Linked DNA regions of Homo sapiens. The protein of the gene in region 1 interacts with the protein of each later gene in a pairwise test. Each region holds a gene or a part of one and is shown on either strand. Other genes may lie near its edges.

Evidence for each region. Proteins that work in one complex are often made in the same cells at the same time.
Region 2: the proteins of PRTFDC1 (region 1) and LGALS9B interact in binary tests that used the Homo sapiens proteins (3 or more experiments, as listed by UniProt).
Region 3: the proteins of PRTFDC1 (region 1) and VWA5A interact in binary tests that used the Homo sapiens proteins (3 or more experiments, as listed by UniProt).

What each region holds. Positions count from the first base shown.
Region 1 is NC_000010.11:24,847,405-24,852,143, forward strand, and holds the end of PRTFDC1 (phosphoribosyltransferase domain-containing protein 1), read right to left. Parts: intron 4,061-4,739; coding exon 3,984-4,060; intron 2,488-3,983; coding exon 2,440-2,487; 3' UTR 1,210-2,439; downstream 1-1,209. UniProt on the Homo sapiens protein: Has low, barely detectable phosphoribosyltransferase activity (in vitro). Binds GMP, IMP and alpha-D-5-phosphoribosyl 1-pyrophosphate (PRPP). Is not expected to contribute to purine metabolism or GMP salvage.
Region 2 is NC_000017.11:20,464,020-20,472,405, forward strand, and holds the start of LGALS9B (galectin-9B), read right to left. Parts: upstream 3,521-8,386; 5' UTR 3,452-3,520; coding exon 3,413-3,451; intron 1-3,412.
Region 3 is NC_000011.10:124,138,724-124,146,969, forward strand, and holds part of VWA5A (von Willebrand factor A domain-containing protein 5A), read left to right. Parts: intron 1-2,874; coding exon 2,875-3,018; intron 3,019-3,718; coding exon 3,719-3,849; intron 3,850-6,513; coding exon 6,514-6,640; intron 6,641-7,142; coding exon 7,143-7,222; 3' UTR 7,223-8,246. UniProt on the Homo sapiens protein: May play a role in tumorigenesis as a tumor suppressor. Altered expression of this protein and disruption of the molecular pathway it is involved in, may contribute directly to or modify tumorigenesis.

The sequences.
Region 1 (4,739 bases):
CATGGCAAGCCATCTTATACGCAAAGATTAAACAAGGTATGTCGGGATTTGACTATTTGCCATTTACATCTAGGGGGTCCGTGGGTCAAAAATGAGTACATTCCAGTCCCTGTAAGAAAGGACCAATTTATAATGAGGGGTTCTAATTTGTTTGGAAAATCCCAAAATATTACTAATTATGTTGATTATAACTGATTCCAAACTTCCCAGTGAAATACACACACACGCGCGCACACGCACACACACACACATACACACACGCACACGCACACACACATACACACACACACACATACACATTTTCCCCCTTACAAATCAGCTTTGGAACACTAAATTAATAATGGATTTGTTATTAATCAAGTAATAAGTTTTGCATTTTTGGTTTAGAGTGAATAAACTCAGTGATATTAACTAGACATGAGTTTTGCAAGAGAAAAGGAAATACTATTTTTCCCAAGATGACTTTCTTGGCTATCACTGTCAAAATATTGTCTGGTAGGAAAAAACTGCAAGCATGATTAAACTTCTTGCATATTTAGTGAATTTTCAGCATTAACTATACAAGTCCTCACAATCTTGTGAGGTAGATCAATCTCCTTTCTAATTTGAATAAACAGACTGTCCTCAGAAAGGATACTGATGCTTACTAAAATTCAACGTTTTTAAGAAAACATTTTCATATTGCATACTTATGGATAATTTTACACTTAAAACCAAATGTGTGCCTGGATTTTTCTAGGTCCTCTGACATAAACATGGCATTGTGAAAAAAAAGCTATATTCAGAGTGTTAATTTTGGTATTTCAAGAAATTCGTCAGTCAGACACAATTATAAATCTAAGCTTGGGTACCAATGCTTCTGTGAAACAAAGCTAGAAGAGATTCCTTTTGCAGACTTATCCCTTGGGATATTTGGGTGTGGCTTGTTTTCTTCTCTGACCGAAACAAAGATATGCAGGAAAATCTTCTTTTACAACTAAAATTCCTTGTTCTCACAAACGAGCTTGAGGAAAAAAAAAAGCAGCAGATCTAGCCCAGCTTAATCATTTGCTTCTACTAGTGCATATATTGGATTTAATCCAAGTTAACAAAAATAAAGCCGCAGGATAGATACATGCAGTCGTATATTTAAGCTACTGACTCACATACATGTTAATGTCTGAAAGTATTTAAAAAATATGGAGGCGGAAGAAAAACAGTAAGAAGTGATAAAACATAACAAGTTTTCTTATTCTTTATTAGTTTAAAGGAAGCTAGAACCTAATAACAATACGCCACATACGGTTCAGAACCAAACAAAAGCTGCTTAGTTATTTATTTTGCATTTGCATTTTGTAGGAAGTGAGAAAAAAACAGCTCTATTGGGACTCAAGTTTATTTTCAATTAAAATCCCCATAAATTAGGAAATGTCTTATAAAACGGAGAAATTGGAAAAAAATGTTATTCAGAAAAAAACTTTCTTGAGTGTGCTTGTTTCCTGTAGCACCTTGGATTTTGTGATCAGTCTTTTAAAGATATTTTTTAAAAAATTCAACCTCTGTCTTCACATTTAGGACAGGGCATAACAGTGTCTTGTCCTTTCATGCAAATAAGAGGAAAAATTTATACTTGCTTAGTTTCGAGCATTGAAAGCACTCGCCCCTAATTCTGCCATTTGCTCATGTCCCACATGAATAAAAGGATACAGCTTAGAAACCAGGGCCTTGCTGCTATTGTATTTTTTTCTAATTAAAATTCAGAGTATTAAACACAGTTGAGTACATCCATGCATACATGACATACCGTCATCACATACCGGAAGCTCCAATCAAGAGCCCCGAGCAAAGCTCGTTTCATAACATCATTAAGATTCATTGTACACTGCGTTTCAGAAAGGCTTTGTCAAAGCAGATAATAATGGCCTGTCAGAAATGCACAAACAGAAATTTATATTAAATTGTCCTTTCCCTCCTTTTAAAATATGGGAATCTATTAATAGCTGCATTCCCGGTATAGGGGACTCAAGTCTTCAGTTAAAAAAAAGTCCCCAGCTTCTTAATATTGTAAGCTTATTACCAAAATAAGAGTATAAAAAGTTAAGTGAAAAATATTTGAGTAACTAGGTGGGGGTATTCCTGGGAATACTAATCAAATATAATGACTGTATCAAAACAAAGGAAGGCGGAGCTCAGGAGTGTGAAGGTAGATAGCATTGCTGAGTCACAAGGCGGAGTGTTTAATTTGGAACAAGTCAAATAAAAGCACTGCTTTCTTTTCCTTAGGAACCTTTGATACTCTTTATATTAACCTCAGAAAAGAAAGCTCTCTCATTTGAACATTTTTTTCTTTTATATCCTGCTGAGTGAAGATGCCTGGGGGGACAAACTTGACAGCTGGCTTCCCAAGTACAGGCGTAAATATGATGCTATCTGGGACTTTAGTGGTGAGAATTCATGTCTTTAGACTCGATATTTTTCTTTACCGTGCTCATTGATGACGCATATGTGCTGAAACAATAAAGGATTTAAACGCATCAGTTTCTTAACAAAATATGAGACACAGAAAAGGTGATGCAGTAATAACCGAATGCCATCCTGTAATTGGCTATTGATCATTTAAATAGAAATGTGTGTATTTATATGTGTGGGTAAAATCTAAAGAGACCCATTCAAGTGCTTGACAAAAGGTCCTTTGTGGTTTAGTTTGGAGATTCCTATTCTGAATCCGGCTCCCCAGGTCCCTAAAACCCAGAAATGCTGAGGGAGCTGTATGTTTAGCCCTGCTAGAAACAGAAGTCTCCTACTGGTAAGATGACAACTGCTTGGGTGAATGGAGAAATAACAGTGGCAAGCACAACATGGGCTCTTATTCAACCCTTTTTGGGCAACAAGCAAAGGGTTAGGAATATTTTGATTGAAAGCAACAGAAATGGGGCCAGGCTAATGTAAGCAAAAAAGGAGGATTTGGATGGGCTCAGTGGCCCCTGTCTGTAATCCCAGTACTTTGGGAGGCTGAGGTGGGAGCATGATTTGAAGCCAGGAGTTCAAGACCAGCCTGGACAGCATACGAAGACCCCATCTCTACAGCAAGTAAAAATATTAGCTAGGCATAGTGGCGTGTGCCTGTAGTCCCAGCTACTCAGGAGGCTGAGGCGGGAGGATCGCTTGAGCCTGGGAGTTCAAGGCTGCAGTGAGCTATGATTGCGTCACTGCACTCTAGCCTAGGTGAGACTGTGGAGTGAGACCCTGTGTCTTTAAAGAGGGGGGAGGGGGAATTTATTGGTGGAATACTGGGGTAGCTCTCAGAATCCAAGGATGAGCTGGGCAATGAAGCAACTAGAAGGCAGGAACAAGGGCAGCTCCAGAGACTTTCACCCATGGTGCTATGGATACTCTCTGGGGGCACTGCTATCCTAGTGGTTGAAGTCTGAACACACTCAGTCTCTGTGACTTTTGGTTTAAATTTCTAATTCCCAGGACAGAGAGACTGATTGGTCCACTATGGGTAAGTTGTCTACCTCTAGATCATGCAGTGTTGGTCAGGGTCACACAGCTGGGGTCCACACTGGGGGTCCACGTCTGTGTGGTGAGATCATTTCCCCCAAAGAGGGAAGAGTTATGAGCTGCATGCCACTGTAATTGAAACCTGCTAGAGTTCAAGCACTGACACAAACCAGTGTATAGAATATTGGCTATTGTTATGGTTGGTTGGGCACAGTCAATGACTATGGAGAAGAATCAGTGTCAAACCATAGTTCTGCTTTTAGCTTCCTATTTCTTTAGTACAAAATAGAGATAATCATAATTTGCCTCTATCATCCTGATACCTACCCTGCAGAATAGTAGTGGGAGTTAATTGGGAGTATGGATGCAATGTGCTCACCATACTCCTGACATAGAAGATACTCAATCAATAGCAGACATCACTAACACGCATTCAATACTTTTTTAAATTGTTAAGTTCTTATAAAAAGGGCGGTTAGGGATTTGCATGCAAGACTTACATTCAGATCTCTGAAGTATTCATTGTAATCTAAGGCATATCCCACCACAAATAAGTTTGGAATCTCAAATCCAGCATCTTAGCAGACAGAGAAAGAGAAAAAAAAAAAGGAACAAAATTTAGATTATATAAATGCAAGTCACCATATGCTGCTGTCGCCACTCAAACTTGAGGACCTTTCATTGAGGCAGGAGGGAGTGAGAAATGGTGAGAAATGCACACGATGAGCCCAAGAGGGACCTGGACCCGAAGGACTACTCGGGAGGAAGGAGGCAAGGCAAACAAGCCAACCTACAATGAAGAATGACTGATCTAGCATACAGAGTTGAGAAAGGGCTCAGGAAGCCTGGTGCATAACAAGAAATATGCATAATTGAGTCACGTGGCCCTGGTGTTCTAAAGCAAGCAGTATGCAGTGATACGATGCCAAAGGAAACACTCTCAACAACACAAAGGAAAGTTCAAGCAGAAGGCGTTACGACGCTGCATTATGTGAACAGGTGCGCGGGCCACAGCAACTAGAAAGCAATTCTCCCGCTGTACTCAGTGTCTTGGCTGTTTAAAGGGCTGGAAAGCAAAAGCCAGGACACAAGATGAAAGGCAACGGGATTGTTCAACTTGAGGAAGAGAATGTGGAGGTTGCATTAATGCTGGTCTTTGGGTTCATGATGCAGAGGATATTAATGAGCTCCCTACTGAGGGCAGAATGAGAGGAAATGGATTTAAGCACAGTGCAAGGTACTTATGAAAAGCAAAA
Region 2 (8,386 bases), on another chromosome or scaffold:
AAAGTCAGAGGTAAGAGATGTGACAACAGAAGCAAGAAGCTGGTTTTGGGGGTTTTGTTTGTTTGTTTGTTGTGTTTTTTTTTTTTTTTTTTTTTTGAGACAGGATCTCATTCTGTCACCCAGGCTGGAGTGCAGTGGCATGATCTCAGCTCACTGCAGCCTCCACTTCCCCAGGCTCACGCGATCCTCCCACCTCAGCCTCCCAGGTAGCTGGGACTACAGGCATGCACCACCATGCCTGGCTAATTTTTGTCTATTCTTTGTAGAGACACAGTCTCAGTTTGTTGCCCAGGCTGGTCTCCAACTCCTGGGCTAAAGAGATCCTCCTGCCTCAGCTTCCCAAAGTGCTGGGATTACAGGCATGAGCCACTGCACCCAGACAAAGCTGCTGGTTTTAAAGATGGCAGGAGGGGTCATAAGCCAAGGCAGGCAGGCAGCCTCTAGAAGCTGGAAAAGCAAAAGAAACAGATTCTCCCCTGGAGCCTCCGGAAGGAAACAACCTTGCTCACACGATGATTTTAACATCTGCCCTCCAGAATCATTAAGAAAGCAAATTTGTTGTTTTAAGATTGGCCAGCCAAGGCTGCTGTGGAATTTAGATCCGTGTGTCCAGGAAACCCAGGAAAACAACTGGACCTACTTTTGCTCCGTAGGGTGCAGGAGGATGGATTTTTGTGTTGGATTTGTGGTCCCATGGGCCTGGGCTCGCCTCCCAGCTCTGTACACTAGCAATTCTGACACTGGCCAAGTCACTTGACCTGCCTGTGCCCCACTTCCCTCCTCTGAATGGCAGGGCAGTAACACCACCCGACAGTGTTCTGGAGAGGACTGGGTGCAATGCTGTGTGCTGAGTCCCTGGCTGGCAGCATTCTGGAGAGGACTGGGTGGAATGCCATGTGCTGAGTCCCTGGCTGGCAGCGTTCTGAGAGGACGGGGTGCGATGCCATGTGCTGAGCCTCTGGCCCATGTCGGCCTTGACAGTGCAGCTCTTTGCATGGAACAAATCAATCCCTCTGCTGAGTCAGAACTTGCTCTCTGTTCCTGGTTGTGCCCAGAGACCGGGGACTTTCCCTCTTCTTCCTACCTGGAAGTCAAAGCAGAGCTGAGCCCTGCGGACCAGAATGTGGGCAGCCTCATTCTGGACTCAGCATCACCAGAGGACACCAAGGCCTGGCCCCAGGAGTAGGGAGCTCAGCCTGGCTGGCCGAGACTGCCTGCCAGCTGGAGCCAGTACGTGGCCCTTAGCCAAAGTGCCCTGTTGCCTCAGAGGCTCCACGGTCCTGCTGGCCACCTTTCATGACACTTTGATTTTAGCCTTCTGACCTCCAACACTGTAAGCACAAATGTGTTGTTTTAAGTTGGCCAGCTAAGGCTGCTGTGGCATTTGGATCCATGTGTGTCCATGAGGGCTCTGGGGGTGACCGGGAACATTTATCCTCACAGCAACCCCGGCCACTTTTACAGATGAGGAAACTGAGGCACAGAAAAGTTCAGTCACTTGCCCAAAGCTACACAGCTGGTCGGCAACAGAGCTGGGATTTGAACCCCAGCACCCACGCTTCTAACCACCACACAGGCTTCCTCTCATGAGGAAGCTCGGAACGTCCTTATTCCTGGCTCTCGCAGTGCTTCCTGGGCCACACAGCAGGTGGTTCCAGCTTCCCCCCAGCCCTCCAAAGAGGCTGGGCTAGATGAGGCCAGACAAGAAGTGGGAGTGAGGTTTCCAAGCCAGGCCCTCATGGCACTCAGCCCTCCTCAGCAGGACAGTGAACCGCGTGACCTTCCCCCACTGTCGGCATGTGGAGAAAGCGTGGCTCCGACTGCCAGATGGGTCACCGAGTGAGGCTCAAGTGTCCCAACCCAGGGGAGCCCCCGTAGGGTAGAGGGGAGCTCTGGACACCTGTGGGGGCTGCACTGATCGTCTTTCTTGTCTGAGCTCCAAGGCCCCGCTTTAACTCTCTCAAACTCTCTGATGTGCATAGGAGGATTTTCCTTCTGAATCCAAAGATTAGAAAGTAAAAACCAGTTACCAGAATAATAATATGTCAGAACCTGGAAGAAGCTCTGGGATCCCCTCTCTGGCAGAAAACCAGAAACGGGGTGACATGCTCAAGGTGGCATACGCTGACTCTAAGGCTCGCCCAACACCGGCAGCCCGTTCCAGCTTCCCCCACTCCCTCTATGCAGGTTCTACCTTGGGGGCTTCCATAGGGTGGCTGAGGGGTCATTGGTGACAGCCAGGAGGAAACAGGCCTCCTTTCTCCATTCTTCCTCTCTGGAGTCTAGAAAGCAGAGCTGAGCTCTGCAGACCAGAACATAGGCAGCCTCATTCTGGACTCAGTATCACCAGAGGGCACCCAAGCCCGACCCTGGCCTCTGCTGAGGTGGCCCCTGGCAGCTTCCCTGCCCTCAGCACCCTGCCTCTGCCCACCCTCCCCATTCTGTCTCCCCACTCAGGAAGGGCCCATCAGCCCACCCACTCCAGCCCCTCGGGAAGCTCTTTGCCAAGGCAGGGTGAGATCCTGTGACAGGACCCAGCCCAGGACACAGTCACCCCTGAAGGCTCCTGGGCTCCTGGGGCTGCCACTCCCATCTGGGGGCATTTGGCAACTGGCCTTTGCCTCCCTGAACCTTGGATTTTCCGTGAATGAAGGGGACTCATAAACCTCACAGAGTTTCAGCAAGGCACCTGCAGCCCTCTGACCCCACACTGCAGGGACAGTCCCTGCCTCCGTCACCTCTGAGACTGTCCGTCTACAGATGCCCTGACATGCCTATGCCTGGTTAACTCCGCCTCACCCTTCAGAGCACAGACACCTCCTCGGGAGGCCTTCCCTGCTGCCCCCAGACTCCCAATAACATGAAACACTCCCAAAGCACCTACAGTGTGTCAGGCACTGTTCAAACACTCTAGATACACTACTTCCTTAATCCATATCCCAACCCTGGGAGTGGGGGGCTCAAGTATTATTCCCACTTCACAGATATGGAAACTGAGGCCCAGAGACCACCAGCCAGTAAATAGCTGGACCCAGGGAGGCCAACTCCACAGTACGCACCCTTAACTACCATGCCGGGTAGCATCCTTACTGTCCCAGAAGCATGCTTGCTTCCTCTTTACACAAACCATCCCACTCTACACCTCTTCCCCTGAGCGCACAGGACAGGACACGACAGCTCAGCCAACACTGTCAAACCCATGATTCATGGGAGGAGCATCCCTCCAGGCATGAGTGAGCTCAGCATGGCACAGCTGTGCCAGGACGACCCCCACTGACATTTCTGCCCTGCTTGTGTTCTCTTTGGGATGCCCCCACCCCTGTCTCCTGCCACCCAGGAGTTGCTTCCTCAGAGCCCCATAACTGTGTCCCCCTGGCTGAGGCAGCCCTGTGCCCACGGCCCTGGAACTCACTGGGCTCAGATAGGGAGCCTGGGAACCGCTGAAGGCCATCTCCACCGCCTCTGTGGCCACCGCTGCCTTTCACACCTGCCAGGCAGTCCTTTGCAGAAGGAATGACTTAACAAAGTAATAGAAACCAAAGCAACTTGGCTGTTATTCAATGGGGAGGAGCCGGCAGCAAGAGGAAGTGGGTCCAGAGAGAGAAAGGTAGGGTGTTGGGTGAACTGGGGTGACACTCATAGAGGGAAGTAGGCACTCCCAGCCCCAGTGACCTTTCCCTCCTCCCTCTCCTGTGCTCAACCCCAGCCTGAAGCATATTTGGTTCATAGAGGTCTACAATGCTTGACCACACTGACATGACAGTGAGTTGCCAGATGACACTGCCCAGAAGTATGTGGCTGGGTGTCCTAAGCATGCTTGGCCACTGGTTCCAGAAAATAATGGGGCTGGGCATTGCCTGTGCACAGGGTGCTTGTGGGGAAGGGCGGCTTCAACCCATTTTACATATAGAGAAGCTGAGGCTCAGAGTCTGAGGGACATGCCCCAGGTCACACAGCTAATTCGTGGCAGCCTGAGCTATATGAAGATTCTCAGAATCTTCAAGAAGTATTTCTCCTCTTTAAATTTCTATTCTTCATGTTAAAACATAATTATGTAGAAGGGAATATTTTGCATGAAAAACACTATAATGAAGATTTTTATTCTAGAGTATGGGGTGCCCAGGAGCTTCTGATCCTCCCCCTCAGTGAATCTCTCTTTCTTCTCTTCTCCATCCTTATTTTGTGAGCTTTAGGATGGGGAGAGAAGTCTTGGACATAATAGAACATTTCAAGTGACATGGGAGTGGGAAGGAACATATGGCATGAACTGCCTTTAATTGGCTTCAGCACCTAGTTAGGGGAAATAATTGGCTGAAACAGAGAATAACAGGATAGGCTGCAGAGGGGAGAGGGAGCCATGAAATAAACTTACCTGAAGTTGACCAGGTCCCAACGATGTGCTGGCGAGAAGGCCCAGAACTCAAGCTGGGGATGGGCGGGTAAGGACCATACAGGCTCGAGGGGATGGCAGGTGCCCCAGGCCATACGTGAGTCTGCACCTCTCTTCCTTCCTGTGTTCTGCCTAGATGCACTAGAATTTGCAGACGAACTCCTTTGAGATGTTCCCATAGACTGAGGCCGTGTGTGTCGTCTGCACTCACCATCCCATTATGTTCTGGATCAAGTAGAATTTGACCAAGTTAAGGAGTAGACAGTACAAGGGGAGCAGAAAGGAGAGAAAAGAAGGGAAATTCTTTGCAATCCTCTCGAACACCAGGAATATTTTCATCACGTCACGTCATTTGTAGCAATCACCAATTGATTGGGATATGGAACAACTGGAACTATCATTCATAGCAGACTTGAGTGTAAAATAATCCAACTTAGAAAAATGGGCAGGGCGTGGTGGCTCATGCCTGTAATCCCAGCCCTTTGGGAGGCTGAAGCGGGAGGATCACTTGAGTCCAAGAAGTTGAGACCAGCCTGGTCAAGATAGGAAGACCCTGTCTCTACATATAATTTAAAAGGCAAATTAGCCAGGTGTGGTGGTGCACACCTGTGGTCCCAGCTATGTGGGAGGCTGAGGTGGGAGGCTCACTTGAGCCCAGGAGGCCGAGGCTGCAGTGAACCCTCATCACGCCACTGCACTCCAGCCTAGGTAACAGAGCAAGACTCTGTCTCAAAAAATAAAAAAAATAAAAAGAAAGAAAAACTGCTTGGTGAGTTGTAATATAGTCAAATATCTACTTCAAAGTTGCTGGCTTTTCTACTTCTGAAAAATTACCCAAGAGAAAGGAAAACATATTTGTCTGTTTTTAAAAGCTTTACTCGTCATAGCCCCAGGCTGGTAACAATGCAAATAGTCACCAACAGAAGAAGGGAGAAATGAATTGTGGTTTTCACACCACAGGGTGGCCCTCAGCAATAAAAAGGAGCTAGGCCACAGGAAACGTCAATGAGCCTTGCAACTGAGCGGAAGAAGCCAGATCCAAACAGACACATGCTGTGAGAATTCCATTCGAGTCAAGTTGAACAACAGGCCAGAGTGGCGTTACCCTTGGGAGTCACTGACTGGGAGGGGCACGAAGGAGTCTTCGAGAGGCTGGAAATGTTCTGGATCTGGTTCTGGGTGGTGGTCCCACAGGTGTTTACATCCATTAACAACAGGCTGAGGCTGGGTGCAGCAGCTGACACCTGTAATTCAGCACTTTGGGAGACTGAGGCAGGAGAATTGCTTGAGTCCGGGAGTTTGAGACAAGCCTGGGCGGCATAGCAAGACCTTCTGTGTACTAAAAATCAAAAAAATTAGTGAGGCATGGTGGTGCATGCCTGTAGTCCCAGCTACAGGGAGGCTGAGGCAGGAGTATTGCTTGAGCCTGGGAGGCTGAGGCCACAGTGAGCTATGATCGTGCCACTGCATTGCAGGTTGAGTGACAGAGCAAGACCCTGTCTCAAAACAAAACAAAACAAAACTCAAACAGAAAACCAGGATCTGTACATTTTATTCTACCTAGACAATATCGCCATAAAATACTGCTAAAAGAAAAAATCTCCCAGAGCCCAAGGAGACACAGGCACAGCTAAGAGTTCCAGCAGTTTAGCACCTTAGCATCACCTTGAGCCTTGGAGGTGAGTCACAGTTAAGCAGCTTCACTAGTGAGTCCAGCCCATAAAGGAGGGCCCTCTGCTCCATGCCCTGTCTGGAGGGGCCCCAGTAAGGTCATACCCAAAGGCTGACATGTTTTTAGACTAATCAACACAGTAGGGAGGCACTTCGAGGCACAGTGCCAGGCCACTGAGAGTTCTGACTTCGGCACCCTTCAGTCACCACAATCCATTCCCAGTGGTTAGCTCTGGTCTTCAGGAGACTAGAAGCAGCCCTCGGGAATGTTCCTGCTCAGAGCTCTAGTGTTCAAAGTCACAGACCCTTCTCAGAGGCTCTCTCTTCTCTGCCCTAGAGACTGAGGGAGTCTGCCACCTCACACTCATTAGGATGCCTATGATTAAAAAAAAAATCCAGAAAATAACAACTGTTGGCCAGAATGTGAGTAAACTGGAACCCTGTGAAAACAGCGTGGCTGTTCCTCAAAAACCTCATCATAGAATTACTATATGATCCAGCAATTCCACTTCTGGGTATATCCCCCAAATAACCAAAAGCAGGAACTCAAAGAGACATGTGAACACCCACGTTTGTAGCAGCATCATTCACAAAAGCCAAGAGGTGAAAGCATCACGTGTCCATCAACGGATGAGTGGTCAGCAAAATGTGGGCCAGACATACAATTCAGCCCTAAAAAGGAAGGAAATTCTGGCATATGCCACAACATGGATGGTCCTTGAGAACATTAAGTGAAATAAAACAGCCATAAAAGAACAAGCACTGTAGGCCGGGTGCGGTGGCTCACACCTGTAATCCCAGCACTTTGGGAGGCCAAGGTGGGAAAATCACCTGAGGTCAGGAGTTCAAGACCAGCCTGGCCAACATGGTGAAATCCCGTCTCTATTAAAATTACAAACAGTAGCCAGGTGCGGTGATGAGTGCCTGTAGTCCCAGCTACTCGGGAGGCTGAAGCAGGAGAATCGCTTGAACCTGGGAGGCAGAGGTTGCAGTGAGCTGAGGTCGCACCACTGCACTCCAGCCTGGGCAACAAAATGAGACTCTGTCTCAAAAAAAAAAAAAAAGAAAAAGAAAAAGCACTGTATGATTTCACTTGTCTGAGATACCTAGAGTGGCCAGAATCAACAAAAGAAAGTAGAATGGTGGTTAGGGGCTGGTAGGAGGGGGAATGAAGACTTATCATTTAATAGGCATAGAGTTCTGGTTTTACAAGATGAAAAGAGTTTTGCGGATGGATGGTAGTGATAATTGTATAACAGCATGAATGTTCTTAATACCACAGGTCTACCACTTAATATTGGCTCTTGGCTAAGATCTTAGCTGAGGCCATTGACTAGAACACCTGCAAGTGGCTTTTCCACATGGCTTGGGCTTCCCCACAATATGGTGGCTGGAGTCCACGGGTGAGCATTCCCAGTGAGAGCCAGGTGGAACTTACATCCCTTTTATAACCTAGCCTCAGAAGCCATCCAGTGCCATTTCCACCACATTCTATTTGTTGAGGCAATCACATGAGCACCACCCAGGCTCAAGGGGAGGGGAAAGAGACCTCACCTCCAGACAGGAGGCAGCAAGAGGTTGAAAGAGCACCTGGGACCAGGAATATTTGGAAAATTCAATGCCTGCCGCAGACAATAAGTAAGTGCTGGACTCCTCTGGGCACTGGGGTACAGAGAGAATTGGACATAGTCCCAGCCTTAAGCATCTCATATTCCAAAGGGTAAGATGGATATACAGCTGGGCTACATGGCTTCAAGGAGGAAGTGCACAGAGATTTTTTTTTTTTTTTTTTTGAGACAGAGTCTGTCTCTGTCGCCCAGGCTGGAGTGCAATGGTGCCATCTCAGCTCACTGCAAGATCCCCCTCCAGGGTTCAAGGATTCTCCTGCCTCAGCCTCCTGAGTAGCTGGGATTACAGGCACCCACCACCACACCCGGCTAATTTTTTGTATTTTTAGTACAGACAAGCTTTCACCATATTGGCCAGGTTGATCTCGAACTTCTGACCTCAGGTGATCCACCCACCTCGGCCTCCCAAAATGCTGGGATTACAGGTGTGAGCCACCGTGCCCGGCCAAGATTTTTTGTTAAAGTTAATATAGTTGCTTATGTGCTGGACATCATTCTAGGTGTCTTACAATTAACTTTATGTCAGTTTTATGAAGCAGGCACAAATAATAATCCCCATTCTACCTGGAAAGAAACAAAAGCACGGAGAGGTGAAGCAACTTGCCCACAGTCACACAGAGGCAAAGTGCCAGAGCCGGGACTCAGCCCGGGCAGTCCCGCAATGGAGTCTGTGCTGCTCACCACGGCACCACCCCAC
Region 3 (8,246 bases), on another chromosome or scaffold:
CCATTCCGTAGGTTGTTTCTTCACCCTGTTGATTGTTTTCTTTGCTATACACAAGAGGTAACCTCGTTTATCTATTTTTTGCTTTTGTAGCCTGTGCTTGTGAGGTCATATCCAAAAATCATTGCCCAGACCAATGTCATAGATATTTTCCCTTATGTTTTCTTCTAGTTGTTTCACAGTTTCACCTCTTACACTTAAGCCTTTAGTTCATTTGAGTTGGTTTTTCTATGTGATGAGAGATAAGGGTCTAATGTTATTCTTTCATATGTGTGTATCCAGTTTTCCCAATGCCATTTATTAAAGTGACTGTCTTTTACCTATTGTGTTCTTAGCACTTTTGTCAAAAATTAGTTGGCTGTAAATGTGTGGATTTATTTCTGGGCTCTCCATTTCTGTTGCATTGGTCAGTGTCTGTTTTTATGCAAGTACCATGCTGTTTTGGTTACTATAGCTTTGTAGTATATTTTGAAGTCAGATAGTATGATGCCTCCAGCATTTTGTTTGTGTGTGTGTGTGTGTGTGTGTGTGTGTGTGTTTTCTCAAGGTTACTTTGACTATGTTTTTATAATTCCATACAAATTTACGATTTTTTAATGCTGTGAAGGTTGTCTTTGATATTTTCATAGGTATTGCATTGAATCTGTAAATTGCTTTGGGTATTATGGCCATTTTAGCAATATTTATTCTTCCAATCCAAGAACATGAGATATCTTTACATTTATTTGTGTCTTCTTCAATTTCCTTCATCAATGTCTTACAATTTTCAGTATAGAGATGTTTTACCTCCTCAGTTAAATTTATTCCTAAATGTTTTAATTATTTTGTAGCCATTGCAAATGAGATTGTTTTCTTGATTTCTGTTTGAGAGAGCTTGCTGTTTGTGTATAGAAACACTAATGACTTTTGTATGTTGATTTTATGTCCTTCAACTTTGCTGAGTTTGTTTATTCTATTTAACAGGTGTTTTTTTTTTGGTAGAGTCTTTAGGGTTTTCTATGTTTAAGATCATGTCATCTGCAAACAGGTGTAGTTTAACTTCCTCTTTTCCAATCTAGATTCTTTTTATTTATTTCTCTTGCCTAATTGCACTGGCTAGGACTTCCAGTACTATATTGAATAGAAGTGGTGAAAGTCAGCATCCTTGTCTTGTTTCTGATTTTAGAGGAAATGCTTTCAACTTTTCCCTCTTCAATATGATATTAGGTGTGAGTTTGCCATAATTGTCTTTATTATGTTGAGGTACCTTACATCTATACCTATTTTGTTGAGAGTTTTTATCATGATGTTGAATTTGTTTAATACTTTTTCTGCATCTATTGAAATGATCATGTTTTTGTCCTTTTTTATGTTAGCGTGATCCATGTTTATCAATTTATGTTTATTGAACCAACTTTTCATCTCTTGGATGAATCACATTTGATAATGATGCATGATCATTTTAACGTACTTCTGAATGTGGTTTGCTAATATTTTGTTGAGGATTGTGCATCTATGTTAATCAAGGATATTGGCCTGTAACTTTACTTTTGTTGTTGTATCTGGTTTTGGTGTCAGGGTAATGCTAGGAAGCTTGTTTTTAGGGTAACACTAGAGAGCTTGATGGAAGCAAGCTGACATATAGGAAAAAAAGTAGAGAAGTCAAGAACTTAGTAGTCCAGATGAGGTCAAAGATCAGGTAAAACAGAAATCTCTAACTTAGAAAACTGAAAAAATCAGATATTATATTTTAAAACTAGGAATTTTTAAATTTTTTTTTTTGAGTCAGGATCTCACTCTGCTGCCCAGGTTGGAGTGCAGTAGTGTGATTGTAGTTCACTGCAGCCTCGATCTCTTGGGCTAAAGTGATTCTCCCACCTCAGCCTCCTGAGTAGGTAGGACTCTAGACATGCACCACCATGCCTGGCTAATTTTTAATTTTCATATTATTTAGAAATGAGGTCTCACTACATTGCCTAGGCTGGTCTCAAACTTCTGGCCTTGCGTGATCCTTCTGCCTGGGACTCTAGGCACATGTCACCGTGCCCAGATAATTTTTAAAACTTTTTATAAAGATGGGGTCTTGCTACTTTGTCCAGGCTGGTAGCAAGTTTGTAGGCTCAAGTGATCTTCCCACCTCAGCCTCCTGAAGTGTTAGGATTACAGGCATGAATCTCTGTGCCCAGCTTCAATTTATTTTCTATGAGTGGAACAATTCTGCATAATAACAAGGTCTTCATGGCTTGGGAGGAAGTGGCAGAAGTAGAATGAAGTGGAAGTCATTGGATTTGATGAAGTTGAAGAAGCTTTGCATTAGGGTATTTTATAGGCTATCTACATGGGTGATGAAATCTCAAGATGATGGTAGGCCTTTTAATGGAGTGGAAGTCTATGGTCTAGTTTTCAGATACTTTAATGAATGATCGGAAATAACAAAGAGATTGGAAGTAGACAATAGTGACGACATGTGGAAGGTAAACCGCATTTAATGATCTGGATGCAGCATCAGGGACTGAAGAGGTTGCCAACCCTACCTCCCTACTTGAAGTGTGGTACATTGAGCAACAACCATTTGAGAGTGATGGAGGGAGAATAGTTTTTTGGGAGGATAAATTCAGTTTTAAGTTGAGACTTAGCTGGCAGAAGCCTCCTGTAGTAAAACTAAAGATGCAGGAAAAATTGTTTAGCATGTGCCAGGGGTTCCAGAGGACACAGTAGAAGGAGAGCTCAGAGGGTGAGGGTTTGCGCAGGAGGTGGGCATATGAGAGAAAAATAGCACAGTAAGGGTGGTGACTGAAGCCAGTGTGGATGGGGGGGTATGTATCTTGAATTGTCACAGTCCTTTGCCCACTGCAGAGAGCAGGGAGTGCCACTGTCTTAATGTTTGGATTTTTTCAGGTTTTCGAAAGGCCTTACACTCTGACCGTCCTCCTTCTGCATCTCAGCCCAGAGGGGAACTTATGTGTTATAAGGCCAAGACATTCCAGATGGACGATTACAGTCTCTGTGGGTTGATAAGTCACAAGGACCAGCACAGTCCAGGTGAGTACCTTTATAGGAACATTTTCTCAACAATGTTTTTCTGTCACATATACAGGACTAGGCAAGCTAAAAGCTTGTAGTTACAGCTATGACAAGAGATGCATGTTTCTCGAAGGGACCCCCCATGCATTGGAAAAGATTCATTCCTCCACCCACAGAACCAGCCTGGAAACTTACCATGCAGATGAGGCAGGCCTCGGTTCACCCCTGCAATCTATAGGGACTGACAAACTAGCCTTCAATGTTCTGCTGCCTGTGGCTTTCTTTACCCAGGAGTTCATCTGTTTGAAAAGCACTGGGCAGAAGGTCAGATTTGTTCCGCCCCTATGTTTCCCAGGGTCAGCCTAGCTAGGTTCATTAGGATATCATATAGGACCTTGAAACCTGCTATCCCAGTGGAGTCTAGGGTGACCCCTAGTCGAACAAACCCCCTTGGCCATCTCAGCTCACACAGCTTGCCTGCGGGCTGCCCTCGCCCCCCAGCAGAGCCCTGCTGCCACCATCTGTGAGCCCCTGTTCCACTGGTCATCCTTTCACAAGTAGGGTTTGAAGACCGATCTTCTGGATGTTGTCTGATGACTTTCTTTCTATTGCATTCTTGCTATGGCCTGTCTCTGAATTTAGCAGCCCTAAATTCAAGTGTGCTGAGGTGCCGATAGCTCCACAATTTCTCATTCTTCTCTTTTCTTTCTCCTCAAAGGCTTTGGAGAGAATCACCTTGTGCAGCTGATTTACCACCAAAATGCAAATGGTTCCTGGGATCTGAATGAAGATCTAGCCAAGATCCTAGGTATGAGTTTGGAAGAAATAATGGCTGCACAGCCTGCCGAGGTAAGATTCAATGGAAAAAGGAGTATGTATGTTTTTGAGAGAGAGGTCATCATTGAGAATTGAGGTGATTCAGGACCTACCTGAGGAAGGAAAATATAGGGGGTCATAGACTAAATTAATTTGTAATAAATAGAGGCTGAAGGTTTTTCCAGTCATGTTAGAGCAGAAAGATCAAGGGATTAATGGGGAAGCTAGTAGGAATTGATGGGGTTTTTTTTGCTGGTGGATGACAAAGGGAAAGCAAAAATCCTCTTCCACTTTAATCGTATTCCCTGCCAATCATCTTGGTTATGTAACTAATACTTAGTGAGCAATTACTCTGTGCCAAGCACTGTGCTAAGCAGTTAATATTCATGAGCTTATTTATTTCACACATTAATTTAATAAGGTAGATCCCATTTGTGTTGCTGTTTATAGATGAAGAAACTGAAGTTCAGGGAGGTCTAAAAATGTGTCTGAGTTTACCTAGCCCATCAGTGGCAGAGCCAGATTCAGTTCTAAGAGTATCTGTCTTGAGAACCCCCAATAATAACCTCATTATTGCTCCTCTTCATACCGATGAAAGTGGTCCAGACATTGGCAAAAGTTAACTGAAGTCAGGATAGGTAAAGTGTTGTTACTAGGAACCACCTAGTTGTTTCAGATGTATTTAAATATGCTGATAAGGATAAATTGCATTCCAGAATTTCAAGGTAACTTACAAAATCTTCTAACGCTCATTGAGAAGTTGTTAGGCATGAGACAGGTGCAAAAAGCCTGAAGGACAAATATCATTCTAAACTTTCAAAATGTGGAAGGAGATCAAATAAATTTCAGATATTCTGCAATTCCACTGTCCAATACAGTATCCACTAGTCACATGTGGCTATTGTGCCTTTGAAACGTGGCTAATACAAATGAGGAACTGAATTTTTAATTCAATAGAGGTGTGCTATGGTGGGAAATACATACTAATTGCAAAGACTTTTATAAAAAGGAATAAAACATTTCATCAATAATTATTTTTATATTGATTGCATGTTAAAATGATGACTTTTTAATAGATTGGGTTAAATAAAATATATCAGTAAAATAATTATACCTCTTTTACTTTTTAAAATTTGGCTACCAGAAAATTTAAAATTACATATGTTTCTAGCATTATATTTTTATTGGAAAATGCTGTTCTAGAAAAGTAATTAAGATGATAATTCATACACACTTGGAAGAGGATACAGGGATTATTAGATGCACTGGGAACAAAAAACTTCAGACTGACATTTCCTTCTTTGGAATGGTAACCAGGCCAATGAATCAAGTGAACCAACAGACCTGGTATATCTGAATTTCAGTAAGGAATTTGATTTTTTTTTTAATGATGAGAACATGGACCAAGTACAAATTAGTTGAAAACCTATGGCGCTGAATGATGAATTGATTTCAAACATGAAACAGATTTTTAGACCCACCAGGCTCTGAATTCTCTGGAGGTCCACAGTTTCAATGAAGATTTAGATGAAGATAAAGACCAAGACTTTCCTATTTGTAGATGACAAAACTGGGAGATAAACTATCAGTCAAAAGAATCAGGATCCCAAAAAACCTCTGAACAATGAGTTGCAACTTTTCATTAAAAAAAAAGAAAAACAACATAGTAGGAATAAAAGCTAAGTACTGTTTTGGGTTCCAAATTCCCAACTCTACAGGTAGAGAAGAGAGCATTTGCACATGAAAATCAGAGGTTTTAGATGACTACAACTGTGTGAATCAGAATATTTAACTAAGAAATGGAGGACAACAGGGTTACCTGAAATGGGCTGTGATTGTAGAATTCTATAAGTACATTTACCTCCAGATAGACCATTTAAGGAGATATATTTTTAAAATCATTACGCTGTTTGTTTTTAGACTAGGAGAACAAGCGTGGGGATGCTTACTGCTTTGACATAAGCAGTCCTCTTAAGGAAGAAATGGAGGAATTGAGAATTCTAATCTGAAATAAGACCACTCAGAGAGGACATGATAGCCATTTCCAAGTTTTAAAAGTCATGATATAAAATAGGAATTTCCCTTGATCTCCTGACTCTGAAAGCTGAAGCTGGGAGCAGTGAGCGAAAACTCATGGGAGACAATTTTCTGCTGCATGGCTGAGATTTTCTATTGAGAAATAAGAGAATATAACTAGAGTCAGAATATTTGGCCTTTAGTCTCACTTCTGTCGTTTGCTAGACAGCTAAGTTTGAGCAAATCATTTTGTTAATACTTCTATATGAAATCAGTTTTCTTTCTTAAAAATGTTTATTGATATTTTTTCATGATTTCTTTGGTGGGGGGGTATAAGGGTTACAATTAAAAAAAACTTATGAAGGTTCTTTATAAACTATAAAGCAGTTTTGCCTGTGTTTCTCTTACTAGAGCTGGCCTTGTCTTAGGGGTTTCCAGAACCGTCCTGGTGGTTACACTGGATTTAAAACTTAGGATTTTCTATTTCGAGACTCAATGGATTGCTGCCCTGAGGTTTAAGGCCTGGCATTATGCCTTGCAAGTAGTATCTGGAGGTAAAGAGAGACCAGGTAACTCCATCTAGTGACATTTAGAAGGATGCTAAGTGAGGAGGGAGTGAAGCTTTTTGCATCCTTTTGAGGGACTTCCTGTGCCAACTGGAGCTCTCTATCTACTGTGCAGCTTGTGGATTCCTCAGGCTGGGCCACCATCCTGGCCGTGATCTGGCTGCACAGCAATGGTAAGGACTTGAAGTGTGAATGGGAGCTTCTGGAAAGGAAGGCCGTGGCCTGGATGCGTGCCCATGCAGGTAGGAGCACAATCCTAAGGCCTGTCTCCTTCCCCTTCCCTGGCCTGGCGGAAGGTGACCACAAGAGAGTCCCATTGTCACCTGCCTCCACCATCCTGCTTCAGATCTTTACTAATCTTTCTGCTAGTTCTTTTCTTGGGAGGACAAGGGTGAAATATTAAATTGGGGACAAGGTAGGTGGGTGAGTAGGGAGGGAGAGGGACACAAATGGGGAGTGTGAACTGTGAGAAGGACAAGTGGCATTGATTCTCCTTACTGTCTCAGTACCAAGCTGAGTAGAAGACTAGACTTGGTGCGTGTTCTCCTGGCTGTTTGTTATCTCACTGCAGCTGAGTGTATCTGGGGCCAGAGAAGATTCAAGGAGAATCTGGGTAGCAAGAAAAGAAAAAGCAGGGATATTGAGGACAGATAAAAGCACAACTCAGGGTAGATGATCTGGGAGGTTTGGAGGAGCCTCTAATTGCAATCCTTCATCCCTGCTTCTTGTTTTTCCTCACCACAGGCTCCACCATGCCTTCGGTTGTGAAAGCTGCTATTACTTTCCTGAAGTCATCTGTGGATCCTGCTATCTTTGCCTTTTGAAGATACCATCCAGAAAAAGAAGTGCCTTTAATTTGCTACTGTCATTTCCTCTAGTATCACTTTTGCTGTGATGATGTGTTCTTGTGTATTATAACTCTTTATTTTTTGCCATAAAAGTAAAGGATGCTTACTCCACTTCGCTTCTCTGCTCCAGGTTCACTTTGGATATGATCTTTCTTTTCCCAACATATGCCCTCAGAAAAGTGACAGTGGTCCCAGAACCTATTCCCTTTCTTGAGGGAGTTCAAAACATTCATAGGCAGTAATGTTCCTCCCAGGGTTTCCAGGGAAACAACATGAAAAACAGGTGACATGAACTACAGACTAAAGATTGCAGCATTTATGTTAGAGAATGCTTGAATTAGAGAATTTTCTGCATTATCTTTGTCTGTTCACTTTCTATCTTATATACTTATCAGGGCCATACTGGTAAGCTTGCGTAGGAGGAGTTAGAGGGAAGTTGAAAGCCAACATCTGGATCAATGTAATGTCAAGATCACAAAGACAGAGACTGCAGGGGTCCACTGTGAGAGGTGACACTGTTGGGGACCTTCCTGATTCATTCTTCTTGGGCTTTGCTAGCCTGTACAACCTACATGTCTTTTCTTCCACTGCCTGAAAGACTTGGGTTGAACTATAACTGTTGGAGAGAGATGTTCCTCTTTAATCATGAAACACCTTAAGAAGTCTATAATGCAATCCTTAGTCCTACCCTGAACCTATGTGTCCTCTAAGTCAGGCCCTGATCTAGTGCAGTAAAGGGAAGGGTGGGCTTAATGGGAGCTTTGCCTGGGACCTGAACCTGGAGCACTTACCGCATTAGGAAGAAAGGAGCTCCCCGTAATCGTTCCTGACCCTTGTGTCTCATATACCCTATCCTGGTGGAAATGACCCTATTTGATATGCTGTCCCTTAAAATAACTTGTATCAATATTAAAATGACTATTTCTACCCTTTGATGAGTAAATGCAGTGGTTCTTAAAGTGGTCTCGTCTCCCTACCCCACAATATTTTGGTACTGCCA